7 linked regions of the Homo sapiens genome follow. The protein of the gene in region 6 interacts with the protein of the main gene of each other region in a pairwise test. Each region holds a gene or a part of one and is shown on either strand. Other genes may lie near its edges. The genes, in order: NME7, PLOD3, TBC1D22B, COPE, INPP5J, EFHC2 and MAPK9.

What was found.
Region 1: the proteins of EFHC2 (region 6) and NME7 interact in binary tests that used the Homo sapiens proteins (3 or more experiments, as listed by UniProt).
Region 2: the proteins of EFHC2 (region 6) and PLOD3 interact in binary tests that used the Homo sapiens proteins (3 or more experiments, as listed by UniProt).
Region 3: the proteins of EFHC2 (region 6) and TBC1D22B interact in binary tests that used the Homo sapiens proteins (3 or more experiments, as listed by UniProt).
Region 4: the proteins of EFHC2 (region 6) and COPE interact in binary tests that used the Homo sapiens proteins (3 or more experiments, as listed by UniProt).
Region 5: the proteins of EFHC2 (region 6) and INPP5J interact in binary tests that used the Homo sapiens proteins (3 or more experiments, as listed by UniProt).
Region 7: the proteins of EFHC2 (region 6) and MAPK9 interact in binary tests that used the Homo sapiens proteins (3 or more experiments, as listed by UniProt).

What each region holds. Positions count from the first base shown.
Region 1 is NC_000001.11:169,357,798-169,361,297, forward strand, and holds part of NME7 (nucleoside diphosphate kinase homolog 7), read right to left. Parts: intron 1-3,500. UniProt on the Homo sapiens protein: Possesses an intrinsic kinase activity. Displays 3'-5' exonuclease activity with a preference for single-stranded DNA. Does not seem to have nucleoside diphosphate kinase activity.
Region 2 is NC_000007.14:101,211,082-101,214,581, reverse strand, and holds part of PLOD3 (multifunctional procollagen lysine hydroxylase and glycosyltransferase LH3 precursor), read left to right. Parts: intron 1-1,377; coding exon 1,378-1,475; intron 1,476-1,638; coding exon 1,639-1,740; intron 1,741-1,926; coding exon 1,927-2,052; intron 2,053-2,207; coding exon 2,208-2,329; intron 2,330-2,631; coding exon 2,632-2,736; intron 2,737-2,865; coding exon 2,866-2,991; intron 2,992-3,500. UniProt on the Homo sapiens protein: Multifunctional enzyme that catalyzes a series of essential post-translational modifications on Lys residues in procollagen. Plays a redundant role in catalyzing the formation of hydroxylysine residues in -Xaa-Lys-Gly- sequences in collagens.
Region 3 is NC_000006.12:37,278,272-37,281,771, reverse strand, and holds part of TBC1D22B (TBC1 domain family member 22B), read right to left. Parts: intron 2,469-3,500; coding exon 2,161-2,468; intron 1-2,160. UniProt on the Homo sapiens protein: May act as a GTPase-activating protein for Rab family protein(s).
Region 4 is NC_000019.10:18,905,888-18,909,387, reverse strand, and holds part of COPE (coatomer subunit epsilon), read left to right. Parts: intron 1-2,275; coding exon 2,276-2,428; intron 2,429-3,452; coding exon of another isoform or gene 3,453-3,500. UniProt on the Homo sapiens protein: The coatomer is a cytosolic protein complex that binds to dilysine motifs and reversibly associates with Golgi non-clathrin-coated vesicles, which further mediate biosynthetic protein transport from the ER, via the Golgi up to the trans Golgi network.
Region 5 is NC_000022.11:31,121,544-31,125,765, forward strand, and holds the start of INPP5J (phosphatidylinositol 4,5-bisphosphate 5-phosphatase A), read left to right. Parts: upstream 1-1,422; 5' UTR 1,423-1,471; coding exon 1,472-1,576; intron 1,577-2,352; exon of another isoform or gene 2,353-2,462; intron 2,463-2,598; exon of another isoform or gene 2,599-2,720; intron 2,721-3,301; coding exon 3,302-4,222. UniProt on the Homo sapiens protein: Inositol 5-phosphatase, which converts inositol 1,4,5-trisphosphate to inositol 1,4-bisphosphate.
Region 6 is NC_000023.11:44,147,372-44,149,522, forward strand, and holds the end of EFHC2 (EF-hand domain-containing family member C2), read right to left. Parts: intron 1,526-2,151; coding exon 1,424-1,525; 3' UTR 501-1,423; downstream 1-500. UniProt on the Homo sapiens protein: Microtubule inner protein (MIP) part of the dynein-decorated doublet microtubules (DMTs) in cilia axoneme, which is required for motile cilia beating.
Region 7 is NC_000005.10:180,250,584-180,254,083, forward strand, and holds part of MAPK9 (mitogen-activated protein kinase 9), read right to left. Parts: intron 1-3,500. UniProt on the Homo sapiens protein: Serine/threonine-protein kinase involved in various processes such as cell proliferation, differentiation, migration, transformation and programmed cell death.

The sequences.
Region 1 (3,500 bases), on a different chromosome or scaffold from region 6:
CTTTCACAGTCAAATTACTGAATAATAAAATCTCACATGACCAGCAATAAAAGTAAATGTTCCCAGCTAATCCATTTAAATTGAGTAGATATTCAGGGATCTCACACCTAATACCTGCTAAATACATATCACACATGTTTAGCTGCCCCTATCCACAAAAGTATATGACCATTATTGAAACTGGTCTCAAGACCAATCTCTGCCATTTCCCTCCCTTTTACCAGCTTTTTCTTATTTCCATTAGGAAAATGAATCTATAAGAGAAATTTAGGAAGAGGGAATTTAATATATAAAAGTAAATTTTTCAATAGCCACAAAATTGCATAACACCATTAACCTCAAATATTTATTTTTGAAGGTTGATATTTTAATCTCTTCCATTTTCCTCAACTATCTTCTCATTAGGCAGCAATCTGGTTAATATGAAAATAACACATTTCATATGTATATTACAGTTTATAAATTACTTTCATATTAACTTATTTGATCTTCACAAAAAATGCTTTAAGGTAATCTAAACAGAAAGTATTATTTTGATTTTATGGATGAGAAAATAACTATCCAAAAAGATTACATAACACACAGCTCATAAGTGCTTAAGCCAGGACTGGAATAAAGACTGAAATTTTAGATTTCTAGCTCTACATCAGTTTGTTTGTACTTCAACAAGCTACATCTTGAAAATAAGTACACAAGAGAGGACTGGAAAATCTGTCTACAAATAATAGTTAAAAAAAGGCCAACTTAATATTCTTCACTACAGTCAGACAATAAACCTTGAATTTTAACAATTTATAATAGATGTAAAACAATAATTACAAAGAAATATTGTAGGTAAGTATTAACAGTGCCTTTCATCTATAGAACATACAGTAATTTATATTTCTCTCAATATTCTGAGCAAAGCAGGTGACAGTTTTATTAAAAGTTCAAATCTATTGTTAGACATATGTATGTAATGTATAGAAATACCAGTTTAGAGTTTAGAAGAAACAGGCACCATGGTATACTGCTAGCAGAGTATTCACTGGCAAAACTATTTTGGGAGTAGTCTGGCAATGTATATTGAAAGCCTAAAAATGCACATGACCTCTCGCACCTAGTTATTTCCTTTTTAATTTATTGTAAGGAAATAATTATGGATGTCTATAAAAATGTGTTCGCAAAAATATGTTAGTATTGTGTTAACAGAACAAATTAATAAATGGATTGGTTAAATCAGAGTAAATGAAAGAATAAAACGTAGAGCTGTCCCTCAGTATTTGCAGGGGATTGGTTCCAGGACTCCTACAGATACCAGAATCCTTAGACGCTCAAGTCCCTTACATACAATGATATAGCATTTGCATATAACCTATGCATATCCTCCAGTATATTTTAATTCATCTCTAAATTACTTACAACACGTAATACAATGCAAATGCTATGTAAATACTTGTTATAGTGCTTTGTTTTTATTTGTATTTTTTATCATTGTATTGTTATTTTTTTTTTTCAAATATTTTCAATCCTCAATTGGTTGAATCTGGATGCAGAACCCATGGCTACCCAGGGCTGGCTGTAGTTCTTAAAACTGATCTGGAAAAATGCAAAAGATATATTAAGTGGGATAAAACAGATTTCTAAACAATGAATATAATAGAATCATATTTTAAAGGATATGTATCTCTGTGTGTGTGTGTATATATGTATGAGTATATATGTGACCAGGATATTACACAAAAATATTAATAGCGATTGTATACAGGCAGTGTTATTATAGATAAATGTAATTTTATTACTTTTACTTTTATATTTTCTCATTTCTAAAAATGACTAAGTAATTTTCCTATATTTCTACAACAGAATAAGTTAAATATCTTTATAAACATATATAAAACATATATAGCATATATATGTATCATGTAAATATTGAAACTATGGAAAACAAAGGATAAAAGTTGAATTTACATCTATCAGAGAGCTCTAGAGCCATTATGTGTGCATATGAAGATACATTTTAAAGAGTATAGAAATATGAAGAAGGCACAGCACATAAGATGAGTCAGGAGAGAGAACAACAGCAACTTATTAAGGCAAAGTGTCCAGTATCAGAAAATAAATGTGAATTAAGCAGTACATTTTAATAGCTACAGTTTCTCACATCTAATTAACAGAAAGTTTTAAATATTGACAACTTTGGAAGTGAAGAAGTTTAGGCAGTTTTTGAAAAAAATGTGAATACAAAGTTCATTGGGAATGCTGGAGATACTTCTGGAAAGTAAGATACTTCAATCATATGCTATAGCAGCATCAAGAAAGGTACTAGGTGAAGATCACAGCAGCAAACATAACTCCCATGTTGAAACTATAATGCATACCCATCTGGAATATGTAGCTCTGCTCGCCACACCTTAGAGTAGATATTATAGAAACAAAAAATAAGTCCAGAAATGGGAAAATAAATTATGAAATGGCAACTATAAGGGATGAAATTAGGAGTCTCTGAAGTTCAAAGACAAAAGAAGCTCAGAAAAATATTTCCCAAAGCTTATAAGATCATAAATTTTACAGATAAGATAAAAATAAGCACCAAGAGACCAAATTAATATGGCAAAAGTTTAAGGCAAATCCAAGGAAAATAAAATATTTTGATGGAATAGGTAAAATATATAAGATGTATAATACTACTGCATTTAGAATAAAATCCAAAATCCCTCCCAAGTTCCATAAGTCTCAGTATTCCTGGCTCCTTCCTGCCTCTCAGATCTCTTCTCCTCCAGCTGTCCTCTCATTCCCTAGGCCCCAGCCACACTATCTCCCTCCTGTTCCTCTAATGCACCTCTGTGCTCACTATTGACTCTGCCTGGAATGCTCTTCTCCTAGGTTTCACCTGGCAAGCTGCTTTCTATCATTGACATCTCAGCTTAAAAGTCACATCCTCATGAGGACCGTCCCTGATTGTCCTACTCAAGGCTACTTGCTCTTGGAACCAACCAATATTGCATTACTTAGTTTAATTTTCCTCATAGTACTTATCATCATATGAGGTCATCATTCGTTTATTTATTCATGTAAACTGTTTTTCTCTCAAACTAAGGAAAAAAACAATTAAAGAGTTTTATCATCAAAGAGACTTTCCCTCACCACCCCAGGCTAGTTCAGATCACTCTATTTTATTACTAACTTCCACCTCACCTTGTCATTTTTCTTTTGTAATCCAACTTATACTTGTAATTTATTTTCCAATATCTGTTTTTCTCCATAAATTCCATGAGTTAGGGGCCACTGTGTGCTATCTTATTAATCAATGTATACCCACCAGTTACCAGTATATGGAAAGTACTCAATAAATACTTTCTCGAATAGAAGAATAACTGGTGAATGAGAAAGAATTGGGAATAAAAAGGCAGAAAAAGGAAAGCAAAAATAAATAAAAAGCTACATGAAAAAAATTATGGCATTATATTAACCACTTACTATTCCGTTCTCCAAATACCACTGTTTCCTACTAAACAAGA
Region 2 (3,500 bases), on a different chromosome or scaffold from region 6:
ACAGGCATGAGCCACTGTGCCCGGTCTACTTCTGTGATTCCATTTAACAAAGGGAAGGTCCCTGGTTATCCTTCTTGTACAGATGAGGAAAACAGCTTGTGGAGGGGTTGGTGACTTGCCTCAGGGGATGGGGAGAACGGGGAGAGAGAGAGGCCAGGCACGGTGCCTCACGCCTGTAATCCCAACATTTTGGGAGGCCCAGGCAGGAGGATCACTTGAGGTCAGGAGTTTGAGACCAGCCTGGCCAACATGGCGAAAACCCGTCTCTACTAAAAAAAAGTACAAAAATGAGCTGGGCGTGGTGGCGGGTGCCTGTAATCCCAGCTATTCAGAAGGCTGAGGCAGGAGAATCACTGGAACCCGGGAGGCAGAGCTTGCAGTGAGCCGAGATTGCGCCACTGCACTCCTGCCTGGGTGACAGAGTGAGATTCCTTCTCAAAAAAAAAAAAGGCCAGGTGCGACAGCTCACATCTGTAATCCCAGCACTTTGGAAGGCTGAGGCGGGCAGATCATGAAGTCAGAAGTTTGAGACCAGCCTGGCTGACATAGTGAAACCCAGTCTCTACTAAATATACAAAAATTAGGCTGGGTGTGGTGGCTCATGCTTGTAATCCTAGCACTTTGGGAGGCCGAGGCAGGTGGATCACCTGAGGTCAGGAGTTCAAGGCCAGCCTGGTCGACATGGTGAAACCCTGTCTCTACTAAAAACACAAAAATTAGCCGGGCATGGTGGTGCGCGCCTGTAATCCTGGCTACCCGGGAGGCTGAGGAAGGAGAATCGCTTGAACCCTGGAGGTGGAAGTTGCAATGAGCCAAGATCGTGCCACTGCACTCCAGCCTGCGTGTTGGGAGTGAGACTCCATCTCAGCATAAAAAACAAAAAATACAAATACAAAAATTAGCCAGGTGTAGTGGCATGTGCCCATAGTCTCAGCTACCTGAAAGGCTGAGGCAAGAGAATCTTTTGAACTCAGGAGGCAGAGGTTGCAGTGAGCCGAGACCACGCCATTGCACTCCAGCCTGGGTGACAGAGTGAGACTCCATCTCAAAAAATAAAAATAAAAAAAAAAAAAAACAAGGAGAGAGAGAATATGAGGAGGGGTAGGGATGCTGAGGCTCCTACTGGCCTCCCGCTCAGCTCACCCTCCCCTTCCTCGCCCAGCTGCGGTGTGATCACGCAGGTAGTAGGCAGTGGAGCTCTCTGGGCCAGCAGCCTGGTCAGAACCCAAAGGTTCCTGCCCACAACGAGCCACACTCCAGGATAGCCCTGGTGTCCCTTTATTCCCTGGAGAATTTGGGACCCCATATTTAGAAGAATGTGTTGCTTGGTAGCTCCCAGAGAAAGGGGGTCTGAAGCCTGGCCTTTTTCTTCCCCAGATGAAGTGGTTTTAAAGTTTGATCGGAACCGTGTGCGTATCCGGAACGTGGCCTACGACACGCTCCCCATTGTGGTCCATGGAAACGGTCCCACTAAGGTGCCACCAGTGGTCTCAACCCCCGCCCCGCCCTGCCCCAACCCCCAGGCACCTCCAACCCTTCTGAGAAGCTGGCCCTTCCCAGCCCCCATATCAGAGGTGCCTGACCCCCACCTCCACCCCTGGAGGCCTCAGCCACTCAGCCTCAGTCTGTCCCCAACAGCTGCAGCTCAACTACCTGGGAAACTACGTCCCCAATGGCTGGACTCCTGAGGGAGGCTGTGGCTTCTGCAACCAGGACCGGAGGACACTCCCGGGGGGGCAGGTGAGGTGGGGGTGCCAGGGAGGGGCACGAGAGGGCAGCGTGCTGAGCAGGAGGTACAAGGACAGCGGACTGGGGGGCGGTGGGGGCATCGCTCCTGGGTCCCTGCACCTGTCAGGGTGGAGGTTGGGTGGGGGCAGCAGGGAAGTCCGGGCTTCTCTCTGAGTCCCTGCGTGTTGCATCTTCCAGCCTCCCCCCCGGGTGTTTCTGGCCGTGTTTGTGGAACAGCCTACTCCGTTTCTGCCCCGCTTCCTGCAGCGGCTGCTACTCCTGGACTATCCCCCCGACAGGGTCACCCTTTTCCTGCACAACAACGTGAGACTCCCCTGTTGGAGCCTCTCCTGAGGGACCCTTTCCCTGCCCTGATCAGAACTCTCGTGCCCCCACCCCCATCTCCTTCCTGCACCCCCATCCCTCAGGTGCCGCCTCCCTGCCCTCTGAGCCCATCCCCCTATGTCTTCCCCTCCCAGGAGGTCTTCCATGAACCCCACATCGCTGACTCCTGGCCGCAGCTCCAGGACCACTTCTCAGCTGTGAAGCTCGTGGGGCCGGAGGAGGCTCTGAGCCCAGGCGAGGCCAGGGACATGGCCATGTGAGCGGGTGCTTGCGGGGAGGAGAGGGTGGGATGAGGCTGTAGGGTCAGGGGTGCTGCCACCTGCTGCCTGGCCCTTGCCTCACCTGTCACCCATCCAGCCCCTCCTGGGCCTCCCCATTCGCATCCTTGCAGCCCCCATGCTGTCACTCCTGCCCTTGCCAGCTCACCCAGACAGCAGAGAGCCTGGGGAAGGAAGGATAGACACTGCCTCCCTCCTCTTCTCCTGGGGGCATGGGCCAGTTACCCCATCCACACCGCCTCCCCACCTGCCGCCGTCTCAGCTCGCCTCTCACCTCCAGGGACCTGTGTCGGCAGGACCCCGAGTGTGAGTTCTACTTCAGCCTGGACGCCGACGCTGTCCTCACCAACCTGCAGACCCTGCGTATCCTCATTGAGGAGAACAGGTGGCTTACCCCCTCTCCCCGCAGCCGGAGGGCACCCCAACAGGCCCCGGGAACCCCACTCCTGCCCTGGGCACCGGGCTCCCCAGGCCTGCTCCCGTCTGCCCAGCCCTCACCCCCACCTGTCCGCAGGAAGGTGATCGCCCCCATGCTGTCCCGCCACGGCAAGCTGTGGTCCAACTTCTGGGGCGCCCTGAGCCCCGATGAGTACTACGCCCGCTCCGAGGACTACGTGGAGCTGGTGCAGCGGAAGCGAGTGTGAGTCCCGCCAGCCTGCAGCCCCCCGCCTCCTCCGACCCGGGGCCCAGGTAGACCCAAGCCCCCTACTCTCAGGGGTTTGGAGTGGTCACCAGTCAGAGGTGCCATGAGGCTGGCTGCAGTGGCTCACACTTTTGATGCCACCACTTTGGGAGGCTGAGGTAGGAGGACTGCTTGAGCCTGGGAGTTTAAGATCAGCCTGAGCAACGTAGCAAGAGCCTATCTCTACAAAAAACTTAAAATATTAGCTGGGCACGGTGGTGCGTGCCTGTGGTCCCAGCTACTACGGAGGCTGAGGTGGGAGAATCACTTGAACTTGGGAGGTTGAGGCTGCAGTGAGCCATGTTTCCACCACTGCACTCCAGCCTGGAAACAGAGGGAGACCCTTTCTCAAGAAAATAAAAAACAAGGGCCGGCCGCGGTGGCTGACGCCTGTAATCCCAGCACTTTGGAAGGCAGAGGCAGGTGGATTACTCGAGGTCAGGAGTTCGAGACCAGCCTGGCCAACA
Region 3 (3,500 bases), on a different chromosome or scaffold from region 6:
TAGTTTAGTCTAAGGCAGTGTTTTCCTTCCCATTCCACACCACAGAGCACATAAGGAATGATGACACTGCAGATGACACCACAAAGCACAAGGCTGCAATAAATGGAGGTGGTTGCTCTCCACAAGCCCCAGAACCCCCAGCTGCTCCAAGGACTAAAAGGATCAATATCCCCGCACATCCTGTACCCGGTTCTTGGCCCACCAGTGTGCCCTGCACAATGGTGAGAAGCTCTGGCCTAAGGCAATCCTGCCTTTGGTGGCTGCGGTTCCTTTGTGCTCCTACATTTCCCACCAAAATCAACCAGTTCTTAATTCTGCCAAGATATGACTGAAATAACAAACAAAGACTCAAACTGAACTCTGTCTTGTTCTTGACATTTCTACACTAGATAGTGGGTAGGGGGAATAAGCAGTAGAGGACTCACGTATATTGAGTGCTTCATATGTATAAGGCATATAGGTCACTTTTACATATGATCTCTCATTTGATCCTTAGAACATATGGTAGGAATGTATAACTATTTTACAGACAAGAAACTGCAGCTCAGGGAGGTTAAATAACTTGCAAGTGAGAAGTGAAAAACCACCTTAGGTAAGCCTGACTCTAAAACTCTTGTATTACCACAAGCAAAACTCAGTTTTTAATTCTAGCTGTGCTTACATGACTGTTTCATATTCTTTACACGGCTGGGCCTTAAAAAGTAGTAGTCACAACAAAAATTAAACAGTGACTATCAACCAACCAGCACTACTAGAAGGTTTACAAAAACAACTTCCACGAGGCAGTTGGCTGGGATGCCTAGTGTAACGAGGGGACTAGAAAATGCAGACACACACTGCAAAGCTGAGACAGAGGTAAATTTCATATTACCTATTTACAGACAGATGCAGTGACTATCAACCAACCAGCACTACTAGAAGGTTTACAAAAACAACTTCCATGAGGCAGTTGGCTGGGACGCCTAGTGTAACAAGGGGACTAGAAAATGCAGACACACACTGCAAAGCTGAGACAGAGGTAAATCTCATATTACCTATTTACAGACAGATGCCGGCAGGAGAAAACCTCCTCAGGGAGAATGCTCTGGGCTGGGCGGGGGAGGTCCTGGCTGCACAGGGCAGCTCATCATGGATCACGGTAGGGGCCTTCCTCACACTGGAAACCTCTGGAGACCCTCCATCACAGTGTGTAGACACCTTCCACGGCCTGCAGCTGTGGCCACCTGGTCCAGTAACACTGAATGCCTATCTGTGCATGGCACTGAAGGTTCATGCTAGAGCCCAAATCAGTGATGGAAAATAACTGTGCAATGATTGCAAAGACCTTACAGCCACGAAAAAGTTCCCTCAGAACATGAGCCAGGGTACACTCCAGGGCTCTGATGTTCTTCTACTTCCTTTTCATCCTGTACCAGCTCACTGCTTTAACTCTCACTGCGATGACAAAGCTTCCCTCTCCAGCTCCCAACATACTTTATAAAACCCATTAGGGCAACATTAAACATAACCATGAATATTTAAAGGAATACACTGAGAGTCCCCAAAAGCTAATAAAACCACCAACACATCAACCATTACTGTGGCCAGTTTCCCGAAAAGAAACAGAGAGGCCTCTACTTCTACCCCACCCAACCTGATGGGACCTGCCTGATGGTCAGGAAGCTGGGACCTGGGGCCTTTAGGCACATTTGCTCCCTCCCTCAGGAACAGGAAAAGACAACCTTATGCTAGTGGCTGTTCCCTAGGGCTGAGAAAGTCAAACCACAGTGCCAAACAATTGTGAAATTCAGCCACTAACAGCTTTAAATACATCAGTTACTATTTCTAAACCTGACCAGGCCTAAAGCAATGTGAAGCAATCAAACCAGAGAAGTTGTGGACTCCACCACAGGGAAAGGAAGAAGAGAAGAGGAGAATGGCAAACAACACCTGGGTGTCAGAGAGTGAAGGCCCAGGTCACCAGACTGGGCAGCCACCACTGTGGGAGGGGCAAGTATAGCTTGTGACCACTCAGGCTTAATGATGTCACATCTCAGGCTTGAGTTTATTTACCGCCCAGTTGAATATCTACCTGAGTGAGGCCCCAAAGAAAAATCGCTTTTATTTAAAATGCACGCTGCTGAGAAGGCTGAGGCTATGAAGGGAGCAGGAAGGACTTACTAGAGTTTCTGGACAGCTGGGCATCACTGCTGGACTTTATGACCTTGTAGTTGGCAGGGACGTCCGATGTCGTTGACTGGGACCGTTCTGGTTTTACTCTCAGCTTGCTGTGGTTTTCTAGAACTTGGGCTGCAGTTGCCAAAGCAACTTTTGAGTTCAGAGTTTGGAAAGAAGGTGAGGAAAAGTCCTCTTCCTCATCATCGCCAATGTCCCAAGCATCACTGGTATTCCGTGCAAACTCATGAAAACTGGAGGCCTTCTTATTCTTCAGAGGAACTGTGTTGACTTTTGATCGTTCTTTAATGAAACTTCAAGAAAGGAGACACGATTACCAAGGAATGGCCTGACACATCTGACCACCTACATTTGCTTATTATTGTAATATTAATAAATTACAAACTACCACATACATAATCATTAGCTTCTTCAAACAAAAATTGCCCACATCCATTCTTCATCTAGATACATCCAGACCAGCCTGAGATCGCAGAGACAGATGTAGCAGAGACAGCAATGGTCACCAAATATCCCATGTGCTCTTGTATACTTCCTGGCCCCCATACACTTAGGTGAGGCCATATGACCAATACCGGCCAATGGACTGAGGAGAAATGAGGCGATTACTTCCAGGCAAAGTAGAGAATAGGTGTCAGTTCTGTATAACCTCTCTCTTTTTTTTTTTTGAGACAGAGTTTCTGTCACCTAGGCTGGAGTGCAGTGGTATGATCATGGCTCTCTGCAGCCTTGACCTCCTGGGCTCAAGTGATCCTCCCACCACAGCCTCTTGAGTAGCTGGGACTACAGGTGTACACCACGATGCCTGGCTAATTTTATTATTATTTTTTGTAGACACAAGGTTTCACTATGTTGCCCAGGCTGGTCTTGAACTCCTGGGTTCAAGTGATCCTCCCACCTCGGCCTCCCAAATCGTTGGGGTTACAGGTGTGAGCCACCATGCCTGATCCATAGCTTTTCTTCTATCATGATGCACTGGCAAGATGGTAGAACCTCCTTCAGCCTAGGTAACTGAGTGGCTATGTGGAGCAGCAGTAACTATGTCGAGGAGCCTGCCCTCTGCCCTTACCCCACCCCCATTTTAGACATGTAGCATGAGCAGGAAATAAACCTTTACTATGTTAATCCACAGAGATTTGACAGTTGATCTGCTATCACTTAGAGCAGCACATAAACTACTGGCAGAAAACAAGATAATTTTAGGTAGTCCACATATGTAGCATTAAACATTAAGTCCCAAAATAAAAAAGTTGTTCCATTTTTTATTCTGTTAAAAGTTCTTCTGCTGGCCTTGAGAAGAAAGTTGAAGTTTGGTGCTACTCTGT
Region 4 (3,500 bases), on a different chromosome or scaffold from region 6:
CTCCAGCTGGAGCCAGCCCTGCCGCCACCTTGACTTCAGACTTACGGCCTCCAGAGCTGTGAGGAACGAATCCCTGTTGTCCTTAACTGCCCGGGCTGTGGTGCTTTGCCACAGCAGCTCCAGGACATTGAGACAGGTGACCTCCCAGGGCCACTGTTTCTCCCACCCTGCACTTACTTCACCAGCTGGAGTGAAGGCAGGGAACCCTGGGTCCCCCAGGAGCAGCAGCTGCTGTGAGCATCACAGAAAAGCAGCCCCGGAGAGCAGGCGGTCCAGGCAGGGGCTTGTGGTCCGTTCATCTGGCTGCACAGCCGCGACCTCATTGGCAGGACGCCCCGGGGACAAGGAGCATCCATTAGTAATTGGTTTTGGTTTTGATTTTGTTTTCTTGAGATACGGTCTTGCTCTGTCGTTCAGCCTGGCATACAGTGGCACAATCTTGGCTTACTGCAGCCTTGATCTCCCAGGCTCAAGTGATCATCCCACCTCAGCCTCCCGAATAGCTGGGACTACAGGCACGCATCACCATGCCTGGCTAATTTGTATATTTTTTAGAGATGGGGTTTTGCCTGGCCGGGCGCAGTGGCTCACACCTGTAATCCCAGCACTTTGGGAGGCCGAGGCGGGCGGATCACGAGGTCAGGAGATGGAGACCATCCTGGCTAACACGTGAAACCCCATCTCTACTAAAAATACAAAAAAAATTAGCCGGGCATGGTGGCGGGTGCCTGTAGTCCCAGCTACTCGGGAGGCTGAGGCGGGAGAATGGCATGAACCCGGGAGGCGGAGCTTGCAGTGAGCCAAGATCGCACCACTGCACTCCAGCCTGGGCGAAAGTGCGAGACTCCGTCTCAAAAAAAAAAAAAGAGAGATGGGGTTTTGCCATGTTGCCCAGGCTGGTCTCAAACTCCTGGGCTCAAGCGATCCGCCCAGTAATTGATTTTGTTGCTGTTGCTTGTTTTTGAGATGGTCTCCCTCTGTCACCCAGGCTGGAGTGCAGAGGTGTGACCACAGCTCACCGCAGCTTCAACCTCCCGGGCTGAAGCCATCCTCCTGCCTCAGCCTCCCAAGTAGTTGGGACTACAGGCGCCACCAGGCCCAGCTGACTTTCTTACTTTTTTGTAGAAAAAGGGGTCCTACTATGTTGCCCAGGGTGGTCTTGAACTCCTGGGCTTAAGCGATCCTGCCTTGGCCTCCCAAAGCGCTGGGGTTACAGGTGTGAGCCACAGTACCCGGCCCCATTGGTAATTGTAACACCTTAGGATGACAACATTACAGTACCAACGCTACGACAACTGGCAGTGTTTATACACCCTTGTGTGCTGGAGCCTCAGGAAGCTTTGTAAGATGGTCTTGGGAGCTCCTTGCTCCTCCCCTGCATGATCCCTGTAACATGGTCCCTCAGCACGGGGAAACAGACTCAGACCTGAAGTCACTTGTCTGTTGGACCTGGCACTGTGGCGAGCCCTCAGTGGAGCCTGGTTGGTATCAGACATGCCATGCCCTCAGTGACACCTCAGACACGGGCCCTGGGCAGACAGCCCCCAGATGCGCGTGGATGCTTACGGGGTCACAGAGCCACGTTTGAACCCAGAAGAACACCAGCTTTGGTCTAGGGTGGCCCCCTCACCTGCCTTCTCTTTTTAGCTGCTCAATAGCCATGGGGAATGGAGGGTCTGGGTCCAGTTAGGGACATGGAGGCATGGGTGACCTGTGCCCTCGGAGCTGAGCCGGTCCTCAGCCTTGCCTGGGCTCAAGCCTGGCCCTGGCCCGCAGCACACTGGCCATCTTCAGGGTGCAGCCAGCACCCTGGGCTCTCAGGGACTGAGGGCAGCTGCCCTGGCAGTGGGGGTGCCCCAGGGCTCCCATCCTTCTGCACGGCCCCTCGGCACCCAGGCCGACCTCCTGCTAGAAGACGTGGCCTTGAAGCCCACAGGGTTGATGGGTTATGGTCAGGAGTCCCAGCTGGGCCCACCAGCCTCCTCAGGAAGGCGGGTGAGGTTGGTGTGAGACTGACGGTGCCTCCTCATGTCCCCTTGGAGCGCCCCACCCCACATCTCCCGGCCTCGGGTCCTTGCCTGGCCCAGCATGAGAGGTGCTTCATAGGAACGGAGGGAGGACATGTCGGGACAGCTCGATGCTCGGCCTGCTGCTGCTCTGCACCCCCAGGGCCTGGCTCACCCTCTCTGGACCTGTCTGCTTCCAAGGAAGGGGACCCTCTGAGGTCCCACAGAGGCCACCCCAGCTGTGGGTCGTGAGCATCTCTGTCTTGCAGGGACAGCATCGTGGCCGAGCTGGACCGAGAGATGAGCAGGAGCGTGGACGTGACCAACACCACCTTCCTGCTCATGGCCGCCTCCATCTATCTCCACGACCAGAACCCGGATGCCGCCCTGCGTGCGCTGCACCAGGGGGACAGCCTGGAGTGGTGAGTGGCCTCCCTGCTCTGGGGCCAGCCCAGGGAGGCAAGTGCCCCCTGCCACATCTCCAGGCTGCGCACGGCCTCGCTGGCTGTCGTCATGGGAGCAGAGAAAGGTGGTGCTGAAATGAGGCCCTGGCCTGCTGTCCAGGCTCCAGCTCCCCTGCCCAGTGTGGGAGGCACTCCCATCTGCGCACCAGGCTGCAGATCCAAGGACACGGTGCCCAGGCTGCAACCCTCTGTTCCCAAGGGCAGAGCAGAAAGCGGCTTTGTCTCTGCTCGGTTTCTGTGTCCCCACCCCCCACGAAGCCTTCTGTGTCTCGGCCCTGGGCCCAGTCTCTCAGGCCTCCCCGGGCCCCCCATACCGGCCCTCCTCCAGGGCCCTCTGGGGTTGGGGTGCTGAAGCCCTGCAAGGTTGGTGCCCCCCTCCACCCTAGGATGTGACTCCGGGCCATGTCCAGGGCACTGGTCACAGAAAGTGTGTCAGTTCTTCCCCGTGAGCTGTCCCTGCAGTGCCTGCCTTCCACTGTGAGTTGCAAGCTGGGCATTTCATGGTCGCTGTGGATCTGCTCCCATCCCACCTCCATCCACAGAGGGCTTAGAATTGCAGGGCGAGCCAGGCATGGTGACATGCACCTATGTTTCCAGCTACTTGGGAGGCGGAAGCAGGAGTATCCCTTGAGTCTGGGAGGTGGAGGCTGCAGTGAGCCGTGATGGTGCCACTGCACTCCAGCCTGGGTGGCAGAGCCAGACCCTGACTCACACACAAAAAAGAAAATAAATAGGGATGTCACACTGTCGGCGAGCCGGCCGACTCGGTGCTGGTCCAGGTGCTGGCTCCTGTTGGCAGGAAAACAAGAACAAGAGGCCTCACGAGTAATTCGTGGTCACAGCCACCTGGGGCTGAGAGGGATGAGGGGACGAGGGGGCCTGCAGAGAGTGGGTGGCCCCAGGGCTCTGCTGCAGGTGCAGGTGCAGGGGCGGGTGCGTGGCCCTCCTCTAGGGCCTTGTTCCTGAGTGTTGATGCCTCCAGGGTGTCGAGTCCGGGCAGGGCCCTCCATCTGGAAGCACAGCCCATGGA
Region 5 (4,222 bases), on a different chromosome or scaffold from region 6:
ATCATCACCTCTACCTTTGCCATCACCATCACCTCCACCACCTTCACCACAACCACTGCTAGCCCCCTACTTCCATCATCACAGTTACATACATCATCACATCCATCACCACAGTCGCCTTCCCCGTCACCACTGTCACCATCTCCACTATCGCTGTCCAAAGACCTTTCTACCCCAACACTCTAATATGGCCTGAGTCTCTGCCCCTGCAAATTCCAGCAGAGATGCTGGCCTGAGAATACAGACTAGACCTACTGACAGTCAAGCAGAGGTAGGAAGTGCCTTCAGGAGAGGAAAGTGAGGCATCTGCCTTCATGTAGGAGACTGCACAGGCCCATGCAGATGCTCCATGTTGGTTAACAGGGAGCTCTGCACACACAACTCTGAACACTTTCTGCCTAAAGTGGGTGGGATCACTCCTCTCTAAGCCATGAGAAACAGATCCCACAGCCATCCCAGCCCAATCTGACCCTCATCACCCATTCACTCTTCTAATTCATTTATTCATTCAACAAACACTCCCGTAGGCCTGTTGGGGACCATGTCCTGGGCTGGGTCCTGGCTGTAGCAATTCTCAGGCCTGTTTGTAACTCTCTTGTCAGTCTGTTACCCCACTGCTGGGCCCTTCTCCACCCAAGTTCCCTTCCCCCAGATAGCTCGAAGGGCTTGTGCTCATCCTAGGTCACTAAGTTTTCTCACTGAAACACAGGAGACCTTCTCAGTTCACCAGGTGACCTTGAGCAAGTTCCCCTCCCAAACCACACCCAGTGAATACTGGAGAGAAGAAAGCTGACAGAAGCCGGGCTGGGTTAGGCCTGGCTGTGGGGACATCTGAGGGCAGCTAGGTGTCTGCAGAAGAGGAGGGGCTGGTGCTGAGGCCTGAGATGGGAAAAGACTGCAGTGGCTGGAGCCTGAGTGTCTGGTTCTGGGTTGGGAAGAATAGAGCCTGGGACTGGCAGTAGGAGTGGAGAGGGTGGCACCAAGACCTGAAAATGGGGCAAGGGTGGGGGCCGGGGCAAGCTCTGAGCTGGCAGGGAGCCAGGAAGGTCACAGGATCAGGGCAAGAACTCAGTTGTCTCTGAGGCCCTGGAGAGGGTGCAGACCTCTGAACCACCTGTCCTACCTTAAGGCAGGTGTGTTAATGCCCCTCCCTGGAGCAAAGGGCTGACCAGGCCTACGGCAGAAAGGTGAAGGTAGACAGACAGCCTCCTTCCTGCTGCCAGTTGGGACCTGGGCCAGGCAGATGGGTACACTCTCCCCTCCCCACTCCATGGCTGTTCCAGCCTCAGCAGCCAGTTTGAAGGATTCCCAGGGGGTAGCCACCTTGCTTCGGCCTCTTCCAGGCTGGGAAGTGGGAGCCTGTGCCTTTAAATTCTCAGCAGGTTGAAATGGCTGATGACATCACTGGTTCCCGGGAGCGGTAGAGCTGGAGCCGGAGCCAAGGGAGTCCAGGCTGCCGGGGGCTGCAGACATGGAGGGCCAGAGCAGCAGGGGCAGCAGGAGGCCAGGGACCCGGGCTGGCCTGGGTTCCCTGCCCATGCCCCAGGGTGTTGCCCAAACTGGGGCACCCTCCAAGGTAAGACCCCTGAGACCCAGTGCCCCCCGCTTTCCTGATCCCTGGTTCCACACACCCCCCCCACATACACTGCAGGCTCCCTGGTGCTCCTGACTGAGGGGCTGGTACTTTCCTCTGCTCAGCGAGCAGGGGCTAGGTGAAGAGAGCACCCTGGGGGCTGAGGGGCAGTGACAGGATGCCCGGAGACAGATGAAGTTAGCCATCTCCAGGAGCCCTTGGGAGAGTCCTGGACTGGGTATCAGAGGACCCAGCTGTGCTCCACCTTTGCTGTGTGACCTTGGCCAAGTTGCTTTTCCTCTCTGAGCCAATGCAAAATGAGGGGGCTTGTCGCTGAAGACTAAAACTGTGACATCTGGGATGGCTAAGTTGTTAGTACTGGAGGCGGTGTGATAGTTGGGGGGAAGCCGGCACACAGTGTGACACTTGGAGCCAAGGAGGGTGCCTAAAATGCCACCTCAAAGAACTGAGTTTGAGAAGGGAGGTGGAGATGGAGTTTTAGGTACTCTGAACTGAGAAGGATACGGGACAGAAACAGAAGTGCGTCTCCAGAGGCAGGGCCTCCCTGCGCCCTGTTACCCTACCTAGGGCCATCCTGGGGCAAGTATAGACATTCTTCTGCCCTCCTTGGTGAAGGACACTTTATCCTGTCTTCTGGAGACAGGGGACATCAGAGAGAATAGATGGGGAAGGAGGATAGGTCTCTACAGGACTCCGTGACTCCCCACCCCTCCCACCTGCCGGACATAAATGGGATACCTGCTTGCCTGTCCTTTCAGGTAGGGGAGAAAGTGGAGGATGTAAGAGGGCACAACCTGGGCACAGAGAGATGTGACACCAGGATCAACTTAGAATCCTGGACTTGCTCTGAATGCTAGATTCACACTTGGTGAGGATGGACTATTCAACGGGGCTAGATGGAATTCTAGCAAATGTTGGGCTCATAAATGCAGACAATGGGAGATGAAGATTCCCCAGAATATAATGTGGCCAGGAACCCTAGACCCCATCCCTTCATTTTACAGACAGAGAAACTGAGGCGCTGGGCAGAGAGGTACTTGCCTAAGGTCACACAGAGCTGGGCTTTGAATCTACACAGCCAGTCTCAGCTCCCAGCTCTTGCTCCTGAGTGGAGCTCTGGGAATGGGTAAGAGAACAGAGAGGGCTGTAACCAAGGGATTTGGATGTTTAGGGGGCGGTGGGGAACTGAGGGTTTCTGGGCATTATGAAGGAAGGGAGAGGTATTTAACAAGCTGCACCTGTAGGTCTGTATCTTGACAATAGAAAAAGAAAAGAAACAGGCTGTCCCCAGTGTGCCCAGACCTGGGATGTCAGGTCAGTAGCCGTGGCTGGGGGAGCTTCAGGGACTGCAGTGGGAGGGTTGCCCAGGGAAGCTGCCCCGAATGGGCAGGGTGTGGGTGCCAGCCAGGAAGGCAAGGCAAGTCCTCAGGTTTAGGTTCACACTCTGCCTCATTTGAGTCAGGGTCTGAGTTTCCCCATCTGTGAAAGAGGTTTCAGACTTAAAGGAGGGGTTAGGGTTTTGTGTCCTATCTCCTCCAAGACAGAAGTTGACCTGCAGCAGAATAGATTGAAGTGAGATAGTAGGAAGAACTTCCTTGGAAAGATGTGCCTTTCTTAGCTAGATGAACTCTGCCAGGGTCTATATGGAAGTTGGGGCCCAATGCCCTGGTTAGGGTCACTCTGAATCTTTGACTTGTCCTCCACAAGGTGGACTCAAGTTTTCAGCTCCCAGCAAAGAAGAACGCAGCCCTAGGACCCTCGGAACCAAGGTTGGCTCTGGCACCTGTAGGGCCACGGGCAGCTATGTCAGCTTCCTCGGAAGGACCGAGGCTGGCTCTGGCATCTCCCCGACCAATCCTGGCTCCACTGTGTACCCCTGAAGGGCAGAAAACAGCTACTGCCCACCGCAGCTCCAGCCTGGCCCCAACATCTGTGGGCCAGCTGGTGATGTCTGCCTCAGCTGGACCAAAGCCTCCCCCAGCGACCACAGGCTCAGTTCTGGCTCCGACGTCCCTGGGGCTGGTGATGCCTGCCTCAGCAGGGCCAAGATCTCCCCCAGTCACCCTGGGGCCCAATCTGGCCCCAACCTCCAGAGACCAGAAGCAGGAGCCACCTGCCTCCGTGGGACCCAAGCCAACACTGGCAGCCTCTGGCCTGAGCCTGGCCCTGGCTTCTGAGGAGCAGCCCCCAGAACTCCCCTCCACCCCTTCCCCGGTGCCCAGTCCAGTTCTGTCTCCAACTCAGGAACAGGCCCTGGCTCCAGCATCCACGGCATCAGGCGCAGCCTCTGTGGGACAGACATCAGCTAGAAAGAGGGATGCCCCAGCCCCTAGACCTCTCCCTGCTTCTGAGGGGCATCTCCAGCCTCCAGCTCAGACATCTGGTCCTACAGGCTCCCCACCCTGCATCCAAACCTCCCCAGACCCTCGGCTCTCCCCCTCCTTCCGAGCCCGGCCTGAGGCCCTCCACAGCAGCCCTGAGGATCCTGTTTTGCCACGGCCACCCCAGACCTTGCCCTTGGATGTGGGCCAGGGTCCTTCAGAGCCTGGCACTCACTCCCCTGGACTTCTGTCCCCCACCTTCCGGCCTGGGGCCCCCTCAGGCCAGACTGTGCCCCCACCTCTGCCC
Region 6 (2,151 bases):
GCTTGGCACTGTCAGTTGCCTTAAAAAAAACCTGGGACAAAAATCAAGTAGTCAAATTTAGGATTTATGGTAGATAGTTTTAGTATATAAATTGAGTATACTAGTTTAGTGTTAAGTCCTGAAAGGGTTGGGAGGAGCGTCTATTCTAACAATAGCACATGTGGAATTATCCTAGGCTTACATATAGAAATCGTTTATTGATTAACTCCAATTTTTTAAAAATGAAAGGGCCATTGTTGTGGAGAATAAATTGGTACATTTGAGTGCCAAGAAGCCAGCAAGACACTGCTGCAAATGTGGAGTGAAAGAATAATGAGTCCGAAGGGTCCCTTGAGATGTCATCAGCTCTTCTTTTTCTCAGGGTAGTCCCTGAAAGGTAAATGGTGCAGCTCCTTTTTGAGACCTCCATTGTCTCCCAGAACACCAGGCAAATGGATTTATGATACATAGCATCCAACACTGAACAATGGCATAGACTGGGATAGACTTCTTACACTGAATTCCCAGAGGTACATGGCTATGGGTTTTAATCAAATGTACACTACATGACAAGAGTTCTGCTGAAGAAAAATAAAAATAGAACTAGAAAAATGCAGGGGAAAAATGTTGTAGTTTCTGAATATTTAAACCTCTAGGGTGGGGCGCGTGGGATGTGTGTGTAAAACAAACCAAAAAAAAAACAAAAATCTCAAAATCTTCAGCTTTCACATTTGTAAATATTTTAGACATAATAAAGTTTTGGTCAAACTATAATTATACACACATGCATATATTCCTAAGCTAACAAGCTGACTTTAGATAGAAAAAAGGGCATTACAAATATAAATACTGCATATGTTTCCAGTGTGTGTGCACGTGCGTGTGTGTGTGTGTGTGTGTGTGTGTTGGAGGTTCTTTTTCTTCCCATAGCTTTACTAAGTTCAAAAGATAAATATATTTACTCTAGAGAGGTTTAAGAATTATTTTGATGAGGTGGGTTGCTACAAAACTTAATTATGTAAGTAATAAACGTGTCAAAAAGGTTTCAAAAATGTTTAATAGAATCACAACTTATTGCTGTGATATAATTTGATTTTGTATTGTCATGTATAACCTTCAAAAGTCATTTTCTGTTCATATAGTAATGAATCAAATTATGTTGGATCAAAAATTATCAGAAGATTTTTTGGTATTAATAAACCATACATATAATAAAAATATTCAACATGTTTTAAGATGGCATTTTAAATAGTAACAGTACGTCGGCAATGTAACATGATGTTCTGTAAAACTAACATGACAAAATAGGATTAATTGTGGTTTATGGATTTCCATTTAATATAAACCTTGTTTCTTTTTTGTTTTTAATGAAATTATATCTACTAAAGTAAATGTGGCAAAATGAGAGAAGTAAATCATAGAGAATTGACCAAAACTGGCATGGTTATTCCTCCTCTAAGCCAAACGCGTCCTTCAAAAAGGTCCAGTAGTCAATGTATTTCGCAGGAATAGGTGATGGCATACCAAGCCAAACATCTTCACATCTCTAGAAAAAAACCAAAAATGGATATGATTAGAACCACATTTCAAAGTACAGTTTTGAAAATTCAACACCAGTTTATTTGCAAAGTGAAAATTTCTACCATCTACTTTAGGTTCATAAGGACTTTGTGGTCTACTGGATACTTGTTCTTGATTCTTCATTCCCTCCCTGTATAAGAATTATGTGCCCACACTCTTTGTCATATGACTCTGTAGAACCTCCTGTGGAGTAAGAAGGGTATATTTTCCTGTTCCTTTGATATGGGGTTGGCCACATGACTGGCTTTGACCTATGTACTATTAGCAGACATATCATGGACAGAGGCTCTAGCGTGCTGGCATCATTTGGCTTGGCCTTCTGTGCCTCTGCCATCACCATGAAAAGAACATGGCCCAGGATGCTGCTGTTCTTAGAATGACCAAGGTGGATCAGACCAGGCTGGACTTGCGGACTAAGAGCCAAGCTTAGCTGAATCCAGCCATGCTTCACTGACCTACATGCCCATAGACAAGAAAAAGAAATGTGTCTTGTTGTGAACCATTGAAATTTAAGGAGTTGTTATGCAGCATGAATACGCTGATAGATCCTCCTATACTTTCTTAAGAACCCAATTTTTATTTTTATTTTAT
Region 7 (3,500 bases), on a different chromosome or scaffold from region 6:
GCCTCAGTGAAGGCTGTGGGGCTGTCATCAGGGCAAGCAGGAAGCCATTTCGACATTGACAACAGGTACAATTACACTGCCATGCTGCTAAGTGACCTGTTTCTAGGCTTCCTAGATTCTGTAAGATTTAAATGATAAACATATAATGTTTAAAAATGCAGTCACAATCTCTACCTGGCCCCAAAAAGAGGCCCCCAGCCCCTCCATTCCACCTTAGAGTACTGTGCAGACACCCCCGGTTCCCAGAAAGGCCTGAGAGGAAGAAACCGGGCTGCCTCCCTGCATGAAGGAAAGCCAGGGAGAAGCAGCCCACATTCAACCAGGGACGCTCCGCTGTGAGGACCAAGTCAGGGAGCTAAGACCAAATGAACGAATTCGCTTCTTGTTTCCTTTTTTAAAATCAAAGAGTATGACAAGAACAGGCATTTTAGAACATAAATTACTAACAGATAAAATAATGCTCAATCTCACAAAAATCTTCTTTAAAAACCCAAAATGAATGCCCATTTTTAGTCTATCACTTGGCAGCGATGGAAAGCAAGCAGACTCGGTGCTGGCGGGAGAAGCAGAAACAGGCGCTTCCTCAGGCCACAGAGGGTGTGCAGTGGGCACTTTCTCTCCAGGAGGCTGATTTCTGAGGTGTGAAATGCACACACTTCCCCAGCCAGCAGGCCCTGAAGCCCAGCCCACCCAGAACTAACAGCACGGCCGCAGGAGCAAGGAAGACAAGGACAGCCTGGTTCTACCAAGGACAGACGCAGCAGTGGAACCATCTCCACGGGCTGCCTGCCAGCTCTGTGAACCCCAGTGCGCCAGAAACACGCTCATCTGAAGACACTGCCATCTGTCAAAAAACTGTCATCACATACTAATTTAACAGGAAAAGCACACTTTACTGCCGTCTGCTGGAAGACTGTGGTGATAAAGTCCCAAGCTTGTGTGGGTGCTCTGTGTGGCCAATGGGGAGGTGGCTAAGGAGGTGCTCTCCCCGCACCCTGGGACCCTCTCTAGTCACCCCCGAAATACAACCTGAGGCAGCTTCCCAACACCTCACTTCAATTTCAAGACAGCAGAGGAAAGACAGTTCTGCCCCTTCAAGTCTTGAAAATCACTCAGAACAAAGAAGACAAATGCCAAGTACAGATCCAAGTGACGCCTGGATCGGGGCTTGGCTCCCAAAATGCCTGGAACCCAACGCTACCCTGTGGGCAGCAGTGAGGGTACCCACAGCACCCGCAGCATGAGTGGGGCAGGTGCTGACCTCCCCCACTGCCCGCTCAACTCTGGGATCCAGACCCACTGCTTGAGAGGTATCCCAGGAAGGAGCACATCATGACAGGTGTCCACTGTCTGGCCTTGCCGGTCCTTCCCCACAGGTACCTGTGGCCACCCACCGGGTAAGAACAGCCAGGCACTCTTGAGGATGAATGGACACAGCTCTAAGTAGACACTGAAACCCGAAGACCCCAAACACTCTCAGGGCTCCTCCACTTGCAGGGTTCGTGGGGTCAGGGGTCAGGGGTCAGGGCATAAGTGAAGTCTGGGCCAGGTCTCTTGCGGCCATGTTATGGGAGGGTGGGAACGTTAGCAAAGGCTTAGAGCAAGGCTGTGAGAGAACATTGCTGTCCAGCCTGCAGCAGTGTGGGCGCTGTCTGGGCCTCTCTTCTAATCAGTGTGGAGGATGCATTTGCCCCATCAACATGCCAGACCTGAGGCCTTATTAATCTGCTCCAGCAACAACTGCACCTTGACATGCACAGCAGCTGCGGCCAGGACTGCCAGTGCCGTAAGCCTGTGGCCGTCTGGGGTCATTCTCCAGAATCCATGCAGCTTCTTCAAGGGCTGGACTAACGAGTTAGACTGGGATGCAAGATACCACTGTCTCTGCTCCCCTGAGGCTTCCATGGTGGCCCTAGTCTCCTCCACCCACCCCGGGCCCTGCAGGGTGTGATCTTGTTTTTGATTTACTATCTTGGGGGCAGTTTCAGGTTTCCATTTGGCCTTCCCACTGTGACGACTCTTACTCACAGGCCAAGGAACTCGTGTGGGCGTTACTCCACCTGCCAAGCGCCTCCGCTCCGGCTACACACTGAGGACTGGGGAGACGGCCACTGGGTGGCCTGGGACCCTGTGGCCCACTGAGAGCCACCAGACACAGACGGCTCAGGAATGAAGGCCTGGGACACAGGCCAGGCAAGCCACAGAGGCCTGCCAATGTGAGAGCTGAGGGTATGAATAACAGGAAAGGGTAGGGAAAGAGCCAGCAGAGAGACCACAGTGACAGGGACTACAGGGTGTCCCACTAACCTCTGTCTTCCAGATTTCCCCTGAGGAAGAGAGAACCATGGGCGCCACAGGAAAGCCATTCCCAACTTATGTGGAGAAGTAGAGCTGAGGGGGCCAGGGTGGACTGTGGGGTCCACGGAAATGCACTCCTTGGTCTCCCGCCACAGGAGTGAGAGTGACAGATGGCCCAGTGTGGTGTCTGCACCTACCCTCTGTCCCTGCCAGGGCACACCTCCCACAGAGCCGTCAGCCAGGGGCCGACCGGGCAGGGATGCTGAGGCAGGCCCGTTCCTGTGTGACACCGGAGGCCCTCAGAGCTGCACCGCAGTCTGGACCAGGCCTCTGAGGGGCCAGGACTGCACTACGTTCAGCTAGCATTTGCTGCCTCCTCTGGCTGCTCCCCCTTCCTTCTCGCACAGGCCTCCTCCCGGCCAGTCCCTCGCCTGTCTAACCCACCGTGGCATGCGGAAGCCGCCCACGAAAAGCCCCACGCTACAGGGACAGGAAGCTGCAGGGCCGCCCAAATGCCCTAGCTGAGCGAAGGAAATGCCAACCTCTATAAATGGCCACGACACCCAGGAAAGGCTCAGCAAGTGAAATGCAGGTGCTATGGAGGCAGAAGAGGCAAGGGTAGCACTTGGAGAAGTTTTCATTTTATTGAAAGTCCAAGTACGTAGTAGATGTCCCAGATCCCCATCTCCATCCCAGAAGTGAGGCTCCACTCCTTCCTCACTCCTGCTGGCCCTTCACGCAGAGAAACTGATGCCCAGCTTCCAGGTGCAGGGCCACAGGCGCCGCATGCACAGTCCTGTGGGTACCAACAGGGAAGGCACGGTGAGGCCTGCCTGCAACAGGGCTGCCTGGTGAGTTTGCGCTCTGCCACATGAGAAGCACAGCCCTGTACCCCAGCAGCCAGGCTTACATCCCTCCACCAAGGGACTGAAGGGGCCTTTTCCAGAGAAATTAAATGGTGCCCAGAGAAAAAACCTACAGAAGGTGACACCTGTGGCTGCCTGTGGTCCAAGAGACACCCATTCTTTAACAATTTACCCATTCACTCAGTACTTCCAGTCAGCCTTTAATGCTTCAATCTCTTTTTTTTTTTTTTTTTTTTGAGACGAAGTCTCGATCTTGTTGCTCAGGCTGGAGTGCAATGGCACTATCTCAGCTCACTGCAACCTCCGCTTCCTGGGTTCAAGAAATTCTCCTGCCTC